Regions from separate parts of the Homo sapiens genome. Here all the other regions are reported to be linked to region 2. The links are microRNA targets in miRTarBase. Many come from high-throughput screens and were not tested one by one. Region 2 holds a microRNA gene; each other region holds the end of a gene's coding sequence.

Region 1 (3,348 bases), not on the chromosome of region 2:
AGGATCCACTCTACAGAGAGACCTTTCAAATGTCAGTGGTGTGGGAAAGAGTTCATTGGGAGACATACCCTTTCCAGTCACCAGAGGAAACACACCAGAGCAGCACAGGCTGAACGTAGCCCGCCTGCACGGTCTTCCTCTCAGGACACAAAGTTGAGATTACAGAAGCTAAAACCAAGTGAAGAGATGCCCCTCGAAGACTGCAAAGAAGCTTGCAGCCAGAGCTCCAGGCTCACTGGACTCCAGGACATAAGCATTGGGAAAAAGTGCCACAAATGCAGCATATGTGGGAAAACTTTTAACAAGAGTTCACAACTCATTAGCCACAAGAGATTTCATACTCGAGAGAGGCCCTTCAAATGCAGCAAGTGTGGAAAGACCTTCAGGTGGTCTTCGAACCTGGCTCGGCATATGAAAAACCATATTAGAGATTAGCCTGGGACCTGACAGTGACAGTGGGGGTGGGTTCTCAGTCCCCTGCTAGAGAACCCTTAATTATAGGCATTGTGGAGTAACTTTGATAAAGGGCCCAGCCCTTTCTGTTTTGGAAGCTAGTGACAGAATCCCAAGGATTTGAAAGCTCGGGGAGTCCCCAGCCTGCCTGCTAGGATGTGACGCTGGGGAAGTGCAGCACCATGTCCTTTGGAGCCCTTCTGGAGACTCCGGCCCCTAGGAGTGGCCTCTGCACCATAGCCTGCGGCTCCCCTATTCAGGTCTCCTTCCACAACTCTGAAGAGAGAGACCACTGCCCTTTGTGGTTGGACAGAATATCTGTGGCATCATGGGCTATGGCTGCTGGAAAGGGGCCAGTGGGATCCTAGATTTGTCTTCAAGTTTGGCCTGTGGCCATGCCTATTCTGTTGACTTTAAAAGCAGCAGCATCAAGAACTCCTAGCCTTCCCAAATGCCCCCTGGGGAGTTCTGGCTGGGGCTTCAGCCTTCCTGGCTGGCTTTTGGATATCTGCTAGGGGGTTAGAGTGGTCTCAGCGGCAGGTGGAGGAGAGCAGGATGCTGGGCTCAAGCGCTTGGCGTGTGGATCTCTACCAGTACCCTGTTGCCATCCCCATCCCACAGGCCTGCATAGGCAGCAGCGGTCCATCTGTTTAACAGAAATGTGCTGAGCACTCCCATACACCAGGCGCTGGTGTGTTTGCCAGAGACCCAGCAGGGACCAGAACAGATGAAAATCCTGCCATCTTGGATCTTTACAGATGACAAACAAATGGGATACGCAGTATTCTGGATGGTGATGTGTGTAGTGGACAAAGTGAATCAGAGAAGAGCAGAGGGAGTGCTGGATTGGGAGATCAGTCGTGATTTTAGATAGTCTGGTCAGGGAGGGCCTCAACTGAGAAGGTGAAATGTGAGCAAAGACGTGAAGGAAGCCAGGGAGGTAGCAGGTAGCTCTCTAGGGAGAGTTGCAGGCAGAGGAGATTGGGTCTTGACTGGTGTCCTCAGGAAGGAAGCCCCTGGGATGGAGTGCAGGGAGCCAGCTGGAAGGGAAGGAGAGGGGCCAGGGAGGCCACAGGCCCGGCCATATGAGCATCATGGGTCATTACGGGGGCTTGAGCTGGCTCAGAGGGAGGCAGGGAGCTTTTGGACAATTTTGAGTTGAGGAGTGATGTGGTTTGAATCTGAATTATATTTTATAAGGGTTAACCACAGATCCAAGGACTCAGTAAAAGGGTGAAAGGCTTCTCATGCAGTTAGCCTTGCTGCCAGTTCCCATAAATCAGACTCCTCCCCACTCCGTTTCTGAATTTTCTATAGGATCCTCGGCCTCAGCAGATATAAACGCTTACCATTGTTGTGTTCATGTCTCTAGCCCCTGCACACTGCAGGCCCCTCTCAGCTTCACATACCCCTCTCCATGTATGAGATCTGGTGCTAGCAATCAGATTCAACCCGAAGGAACAAGTGCATGTGCCTGCTGCTCTCAGGAGAAAAGGCAGCCTGTTCTGGGAGGAGCTCCCTCACTGGCCCACCCACTTGTGTTGAAGCAAAAAGCAAGAATCAATTACTTAAAGGCAAAGGAGTGATATTGCTAAAGCATGTGAGTAATCATTGCTTCTGATTATTGAAGAGGTCAGATTATGAATGAAAGGATAAAATGTTTTAATAGTAGAGCAGTGTCCTGACTATAGGGGCCCGTTCATGGAGCTGGTCATTTCTTGAAATGAGAAGAAACCAACCTGGAAGATGTCTTTTTCAGTAGAGTATGGAATAATCTTACCTGCTCTGGATTGCCATGAGCAGGTGAAAATGAAGGCTCTGATATTGTGTGGTGGTGTCACAGGATGGTGGGGGCGGGGCAGAAGTCTCCTGTTGGTGTTCTGATGCCTGTTCAGCTTTGTCCTCAGGAAGGTTTGGTCATCTTGGTTCTGCCATCCTCTTGCCTTCCTACGGCAGCAGCTGTTCATGGCACTGAAGATGTCCCTTCACTGTCCCAAAACTGGCACTAGAAGTGGCTGGGCAGGGGGGCCAGAGTCATAGGAAGGGTCTTGGAGTCATCAGATCTGGGTTCCAGGCATGGTGTGCCTTTTCTTGGCAGGATTGATCTTGAGCAAGTCAATGAACCTCTGCATCAATTTCCTTATGTGTGAAGTTAGAGTGCTTGGCTGTGCTACCTGATTCCTGAGATTGGTGAAAGAGGGCTTGGTTTACCAAGGCTCTCCATCAGGTGGTTGACCTCTAGGACCAGGGCCCTCTCAGAGGTGCAGCTTCCATGTCAGTTGGTGTTGTAACCATGGAAAAGTCCCTTTCCAATCAAACTTTTAGCACCCCTTTCCCCCCATCTCTGCTCCCTTTGCCACAGGATACCTTGTAAAGTTCCTGCCCCAGTATAGGGATATTTTTACTGTCTTTTTTATTTTTTGAGACAGGGTTGCCCAGGGTGGAGTGCAGTGGCAGGATCACAGCTTACTGCAGCCTTGACCTCCCAGGCTCAGGTCCCATCTGAGCCTCCCGAGTAGCTGGGGCTACAGGTGTGTGCCACCCTGCCAGCTAATTTTTTATATTTTTTTGTAGAGACAAAACTTTTATTTTTTTTTCCCATGTTGCTCATGCTGGTCTCAAACTCCTGGGCTCAAGCAATCCACCCACCTCTGCCTCCCAAAGTGCTGGGATTACAGGCGTGAGCCACTGTGCCTGACCTGTCATTTTTATAGAATGAAATGTGCTTATTTCTAAACATTCTAATCAAATTTTAAAATGTGCAAAGAATGAAGTGAAAAACTGAATTTTTTTTTTTTTTTGATACGGAGTCTCACTCTGTTACCCAGGCTAGAGTGCAGTGGCGCGATCTCCGCTCACTGCAAGCTCTGCCTCCTGGGCTCACACCATTCTCCT
Region 2 (3,348 bases):
CAGACAGGCATGTCTTTTCCTCTGTACAAAAGTTGAAGTGTTAAATACAGAGGAATTGTGACTCTGTGTCTGGCCAAAACCTGAACCTGGAGAGTGCTCTTTCTGGGGGATGCAGTCAACATGATGTGTTCCAGAAATGCTGTCTATAGTTGCACCCGTACTGAGCTCTTATGGGAGAGACCCCAAGTGTGCCTGCAGTGGTGTACAAGGGGGAAAGACTTCCTCTTCTTCAAGTTTTTCACATGCACCAGGGATATCTGACTGTTGAGACAGAGCTGAAGACTTTCTCTGCTGAGCTCAGCACTGTAACTGCCTCTACTAAAAGAAGTTTCCCACCAATGGAGGGATCTGATTGATGTTCAAGGCCTGCCATCCAGATTCTCCTGTCCCACAGGGTGTTCCCTCAATGTGGTGCACTCCCTTCCCCTAGGAGCAGGAGAACCTGGGAGCCATACTACTGTGAGTGTTGTTGCTTCTCTAGGTCTAGCCGCCCAGTGAAGTTGACACACTTCAGGCTGGTGTTGGGGAATGTATGTGAGGGATCCGGTGGTGTGATGTGTCCTCAATTTTTCAGCAGTGAGCAGTGAACCAGGTCTGATGGAAGCAGCAGGGGAGTGATGGAGACTGAAATTCCTTAGATATTGATAGCCTTTGTGTACTGGCTTTCTTGAATGCTGGTTATAGCGGTAATGAACTGTTCACATGGACAGACTCAGGACCTCCTGGTCATCCAGAGTGGTGCAGGCACTGGTCATAGCTGAGATCACACAGTCATTTTCTCCTTTCTGGGTGCAGTGATAGTCTACCAGGAGATACTGTGATGGACTGTTTATTGGCTTCCTGCTTGGAGATGGTGCTTTCCAAAGAGCACCAGCTACAGTATTAACAGTGGGGTTTTTGCTTGGCTTATGTTGCCCAGGAATAGGGGCTACTGTGGATTCTCAGGCAGTGGGTGTGGCCATGTATCTCCCAAAAGATGCTGTCCTTTGTGTTAAGCTGCCAGGGCAGATGGCTGCATAAAGCAAGGTGAGGGCTGGGCCAGGTAGGTTTCTGCTCAGAGTATCCTTGTGCAGGGCAAGCAGCAGCCTCTCTGGGTATGGGAGACACAGATAATGGTGAATTCTATTCTTAATCTGCTGTTTAATTTTGTTTGTCATCTCATCACTCTTGAGAGTTTTTGAAACTATGATAATCAGGGATATTGGCCTGTAGTTTTATTTACTTGTAGTGTCTTTTCCTTGCTTTGGAAATAGGGCCTTCCAAAATAAGCTTGGATATATTTCTTTCTCTTTATTTTGTTGGAAATTTGAGTAGAGATTCTAGGTTTTTTTTAATTTTTGATAAAATTCAGTAGTGAAGCCATGAAGTTCTGGACTTTGATTCGAGATGTTGGAAAAATCACTGACTCGATCTCTTTACTCATTGGTCTGTTCAGATTTTTTTTAATTGGAGTCTCACTCTGTTGCTCAGTCTGGAGTGCAGTGGCTCGATTTTGGCTTTCTGCAACCTCTGCCTCCCAGGTTCAAGTCATTCTCCTACCTCAGCCTCCCGAGTAGCCGGGACTATGGGACTGCGGGTGAACACCACCACACCCAGCTAATCTGTGTATTTTTAGTAGAGACGGGGTTTTGCCATGTTGGCCAGGCTGATCTTGAACTCCTGACCTGAGGTGATCCACCCGCATCGGTCTCCCAAAGTGCTGAGAATACACATATGAGCAACCACGCCCAGCCCAGATTTTTTATTTCTTGGTGGTTCAGTTTTGATAGGTTGTATGTCTTTAAAAATTTGTCTATTTATTTTAATTTATTCTTAACCAAACAGGTTCTAAAATATTTGCAAGATTACTCACAGGAAATCTATTTATGACAGAAGTCTTTGTTATATCAAAATATTTACGAATTGGCACAAAGATGAATTATTCAGTGCATATTGTTAAAAGGAAAACAACAACAAAAACAAGATAACTTATTAATGGTACAAAAAGGGGTTAAATGATTTTGGAAAAGTAAGTAGAAAATAAAAGAAGGAGGGAGTAAGAGCGGACAGAAGGGAGGAAGGCAAGCAAGCAATGATGAACTGTGTAAAATTTTCACTAATTAAAAGACTATTATATTGAAGAGGTGCCTATTAGGCAGCCTTTTGATGTTAACCATGTAATATACACCATGAACAACCTTGTAGAACACACAAGAGCCCCCTCAGAGAACTGGATGGGTCAGGTCTCCCATCCAGTTGCCTTAGGGGTTAGGAACGCTCCCATGTTGTTCTCTGGTTTTTGCTCCTGAGGACACAAACAGCCAGTGTTTCCTCCCCGGATGAATAGAGAGGCCCCTGGGGAGGGTGTGTCTGGCAGCTCACTCTGCACCTGCACCGCGGAAGGTTTTAGATGGTCCCTCTCACACAATAATACATGGCGGCGTCCGAGGCCTTCAGGCTGCTCCACTGCAGGTAGGCGGTGCTGCTGGAGCTGTCGGCTGAGATGGTGACGTGGCCTTGGAAGGATGGGCTGTATCTGGTATCAGAGTTCCCAGGATAGATGCTCCCCATCCACTCCAGTTCTTTCCCGGGCATCTGGCGCACCCAGTGGATCCAGTAGCTGGTAAAGCTGTATCCAGAAGTCTTACAGGAGATCCTCAGAGACTCCCCGGGTCTTTTCACCTCTGCTGCAGACTGCAACAGCTGCACCTCGGCAAAGACACCTGTGTGGGAGACACAAAATTTGCATCAGGGGCTCCCTTCTGCCCATTCTTCTCTGTGACCTCAAACCCTGGGCAGGACTGACCTTGGAGAACAGCCAGGACGAGGGAAAGGATGACGGTTGACCCCATCCTGGAGGAGGACAGAAAAGAAAGCACTGAGATCCCAGCTGGGTGGTGAAGGAGACTCACTGTGGAGGAGAGCCCTGGGTTTAAGTGGGGAGGCCCCCACTTGAATTTGCATAGTTGCCGCCCTGGCCTGAAGGGAAGAGTCTACAAGGTTTATAACCCAGAACCGCAACTGCAGAAAAACGGCTGAACTGAGCCTCTTGGGAGAGGCAGAATAAGGTCTTAATAATGTCTTACAACCCCCTGTTGTCCCTCCGCACTCTTGTCCATGGTCCTACAAGACCCAAACCAGGGCCTCCCTTCTTCCTACCCTTCTCTGTGACCCTGTGAAGGTGATAAATCTAGATGAAATCACGTGTGTTTTAAAAAATGAGAAATAGAACCAGGAAATGCTATGAAGACAAAATTCAAATGCACATATGCCTGATAATAAGAACTACAAAAAAAAAAAAAACACCTAGTTTCTACTTGCTGGCAATTTCCCATGAGTGCCATTATGGTCTGGGCACCCAGCAAAGGC
Region 3 (3,000 bases), not on the chromosome of region 2:
GTTTGAATTACACACAAAAATGTTCCCTGCAGCAGGTCATAAACTCTGTGAACTAATGAAGCTGACAAACAGAGCTGGAGTACGTTTCCCCTCACCCTTCCTTTCCTCCTAGCTCAGCAAGGGGTGCTCAGGTTCAGGATGTTGTTTGTTGATTCAGGCTCAACCAGGCTCCGCAAGAAAACCTTATCAGGAGATTTTATTTTCATGAACAGGTGCCAGTCTTCCCGCCAGCCACGTCCAGCTGGCGTCAATAAGCATCTTTGGGGATGTCCTGCCTCCTCCAGGACCAGCCATGAGTGGCTCTTATGGCCAAAGGCGGTACTGCAGGCCAAGCAAACGGCTCTGGGCTGGAATAGCCCTACCTGAGTGCCCTGTTTGACTCCGCCACTATCTGCCATGTGAGTTGGGCAAATTGTTGACCACCTCTGAGCCTTGAAAAAGTAGGAGGTTACTTTGTTAGAGCAAAATAATAAAATTTAATTTTAAAAAAGAAAACGTAGGAGGTTGGTTTGGATGAGCTAGTCTCTTCCGGTTGAAAAGTCTGACTCGGTGAGCATCCTGACGACTCCATTTCCTTCTGGCTCCCCACCCAGTCTTACACTTGGCTGCCATCAATACCACATGCTCTGAAGGGAGAGTGCTTGCATGGACTTTGCCAAATCCTGTCTGCTCCATCTCAGTTGAATGGAAAAGGAGGGAGGTGGGGCTGGTAGATAGGTGCTTTTGGTGCTAGTATCCACCAGGTTTTGTGTGCATCCCGTAATGAGCCCACTTCCTGAAAACATTTAAAGAAAAAAGATATCAGCTGGAGATGGCAGTGCGCACATGTAATCCCAGCTACTCGGGAGGTTGAGGTGGGAGGATCACTCAAACCTGGGAGTTTGAGGCCAGCCTGGGCAACACAGCAAGACCCTGTCTTTTTTTTAAAAAAAAAAAAAAAAAAAAGGCTGGGTGTGGTGGCTCACGCCTGTAATCCCAGCACTTTGAGAGGCCAAGATGGGTGGGTCACTAGAGGTCAGGAGTTCAAGACCAGCCTGGCCAACATGGCAAAACCCCAGCTCTACTAAAAATACAAAAATTAGCCAGGCGTGGTAGCAGTCGCCTGTAATCCCAGCTACTTGGGAGGCTGAGGCAGGAAATTTGCTTGAACTGGAGAGGAAGAGGTTGTGGTGAGCTGGGATCACGCCACTGCACTACAGCCTGGGTGATGGAATGAGACTCGTCTCAAAAAACAAACAAACAAAAAAAACACTTTGGGAGGTCAGAGCAGGAGGATCGCTTGAGACCAGGACTTCAAGACCAGCCTGGGCAACATAGAGACCCTGTCTCTACAGAAAAATTAAGGAAAGGGAAAAAAAAAAAGCCAAGTGTGGTGGATCATGCCTGTAATCCCAACACTTTGGAAGGCCAAGATGGGAGAATCACTTGAGAGGCCACCCTGGGCCACATAAGGAGACCTCCATCTCTACAAAAAATTTAAAACTTAGCTGGACATGGTGGCACAGGCCTGTAGTCCAAGCCACTCAGGAGGCAGAGGTGGGAGGATCCCTTGAGCCAAGAAGCTCAAGGTTGCAGTAAGCTGTGATCACACCACTGCACTCCAGCCTGGGTGACAGAGACCTTGTCCCCCCTTCCCAAAAAAAAAAAAGGTATCAATGAATGTTCTGCATAGGAAACTTTCATCTCACCTGCTCCTAGGCAAGAATAGCAATCATCTCTGGGCAGAATTCCTTCAATAAATATTTACTGAGTATCTACTGTGTGCCAGAGACTGGGCAGAGGTAAGACCTACCAAGGGCTGAGAATTCCACCCCAAGGAGGGCCCCTCCCTGAGGCCTTAAGAAGGGAGAAGACTGGCTGGGTGCGGTGGCTCATGCCTGTAATCCCAGCACTTTGGGAGGCTGAGACAGGTGGATCACGAGGTCAAGATATCGAGACCATCCTGGCCAACAAGGTGAAACCCCATCTCTGCTAAAAATACAAAAATTAGGCCGGGCGCAGTGGCTCACGCCTGTAATCCCAGCACTTTGGGAGGCCAAGGCGGGTGGATCACGAGGTCAGGAGATCGAGACCATCCTGGCTAACACGGTGAAACCTCGTCTCTATTAAAAATACAAACATTAGCCGGGCGTCGTGGCGGGTGCCTGTAGTCCCAGCTATTCAGGAGGCTGAGGCAGGAGAATGGCGTGAACCTGGGAGGCGGAGCTTCCAGTGAGCTGAGATCGCACCACTGCACTCCAACCCGGGTGACAGAGCGAGACACTGTCTCAGAAAAAAAATACAAAAATTAGCTGGGTGCAGTGGTGCGTGCCTGTAATCCCAGCTACTCGGGAGGCTGAGGCAGGAGAATCACTTGAATCTGAGGCGGAGGTTGTAGTGAGCCGAGATCGCACCACTGTACTCCAGCCTGGCGACAGAGCGAGACTCCATCTCAAAAAGAAAAAAAGGGAGAAGACCAATGAGGGAAGATGGGGTGGCCCATCTGATTCAGCAATCCCCATCTAGCTGATTGCCTGCGAACCTCTAGAGAAGGTCTGGGGCAGTTCCTGGGCAGGGAGGGATGGAGCTTACTTCCATCCTCCCTGTTTCTGGGCTCCTATTTGCTGCTCTGTCCAGCAAGAGGCAGAGAAACCCCTTGGGCACCTAGGGGTAAGATGCACTTCCCAGGCTGCAGAGGCTCCCAAGAGAAGCCAAAGGGCTTTGGTGAGGGTCCTGGGGCCTAGGTACCCAGACTAAGTTAGAAACTCCTGCCTCAGAGGGTGTACATAGGGCAGGGGCTGACCACAAGGACCTGAAACCTCAGAGGTGAGGCCTGCTTCCAATGGGGCTGCAGCTGGCTGGAGTGTGACGGCCACTCTGCCTTCATCCGGGCCCAGGGCTTAAGATAATGGTCCTTGCCTTTGTCAGCCTAAATAACAGAGAGGCTCTCTCAAAGAAAATGATATCTATTTGGGCATAGGGCATTGCAATGGTAGTATCCATGCCATAGTAAACTATATG

Evidence for each region. The annotated mature microRNA hsa-miR-5195-3p reads AUCCAGUUCUCUGAGGGGGCU and lies in region 2 at 2,195-2,215, opposite strand. An mRNA with a match to its seed (bases 2 to 7 or 8) in the 3' UTR can be bound and repressed. Matches are read on the target gene's strand: a 7mer-m8 pairs with bases 2 to 8, a 7mer-A1 pairs with bases 2 to 7 and ends in A, and an 8mer does both.
Region 1: miRTarBase lists ZNF445 as a target of hsa-miR-5195-3p. The part of its 3' UTR that is shown has no 7-base or 8-base seed match.
Region 3: the mRNA of SLC16A5 is a reported target of hsa-miR-5195-3p. The part of its 3' UTR that is shown has no 7-base or 8-base seed match.

The regions. Positions count from the first base shown.
Region 1 is chr3:44,443,662-44,447,009 of GRCh38, reverse strand. It overlaps ZNF445 (zinc finger protein 445), which reads left to right. Exons shown (of 8, transcript NM_181489.6): 8 at 1-3,348. The coding sequence ends at 435. Among named protein-coding and RNA genes, the nearest start is that of LINC01988, 17 kb to the right of the region's middle.
Region 2 is chr14:106,848,716-106,852,063 of GRCh38, forward strand. It overlaps MIR5195 (microRNA 5195), which reads right to left and starts at 2,284; the gene lies at 2,170-2,284. The region is part of intron 1 of LOC124903399 (a long non-coding RNA gene); the gene reads left to right. It also overlaps IGH and the pseudogene IGHV5-78.
Region 3 is chr17:75,105,668-75,108,667 of GRCh38, forward strand. It overlaps SLC16A5 (solute carrier family 16 member 5), which reads left to right. Exons shown (of 7, transcript NM_004695.4): 7 at 213-495. The coding sequence ends at 366. Among named protein-coding and RNA genes, the nearest start is that of ARMC7, 2.8 kb to the right of the region's middle. RefSeq lists an enhancer at 1-23.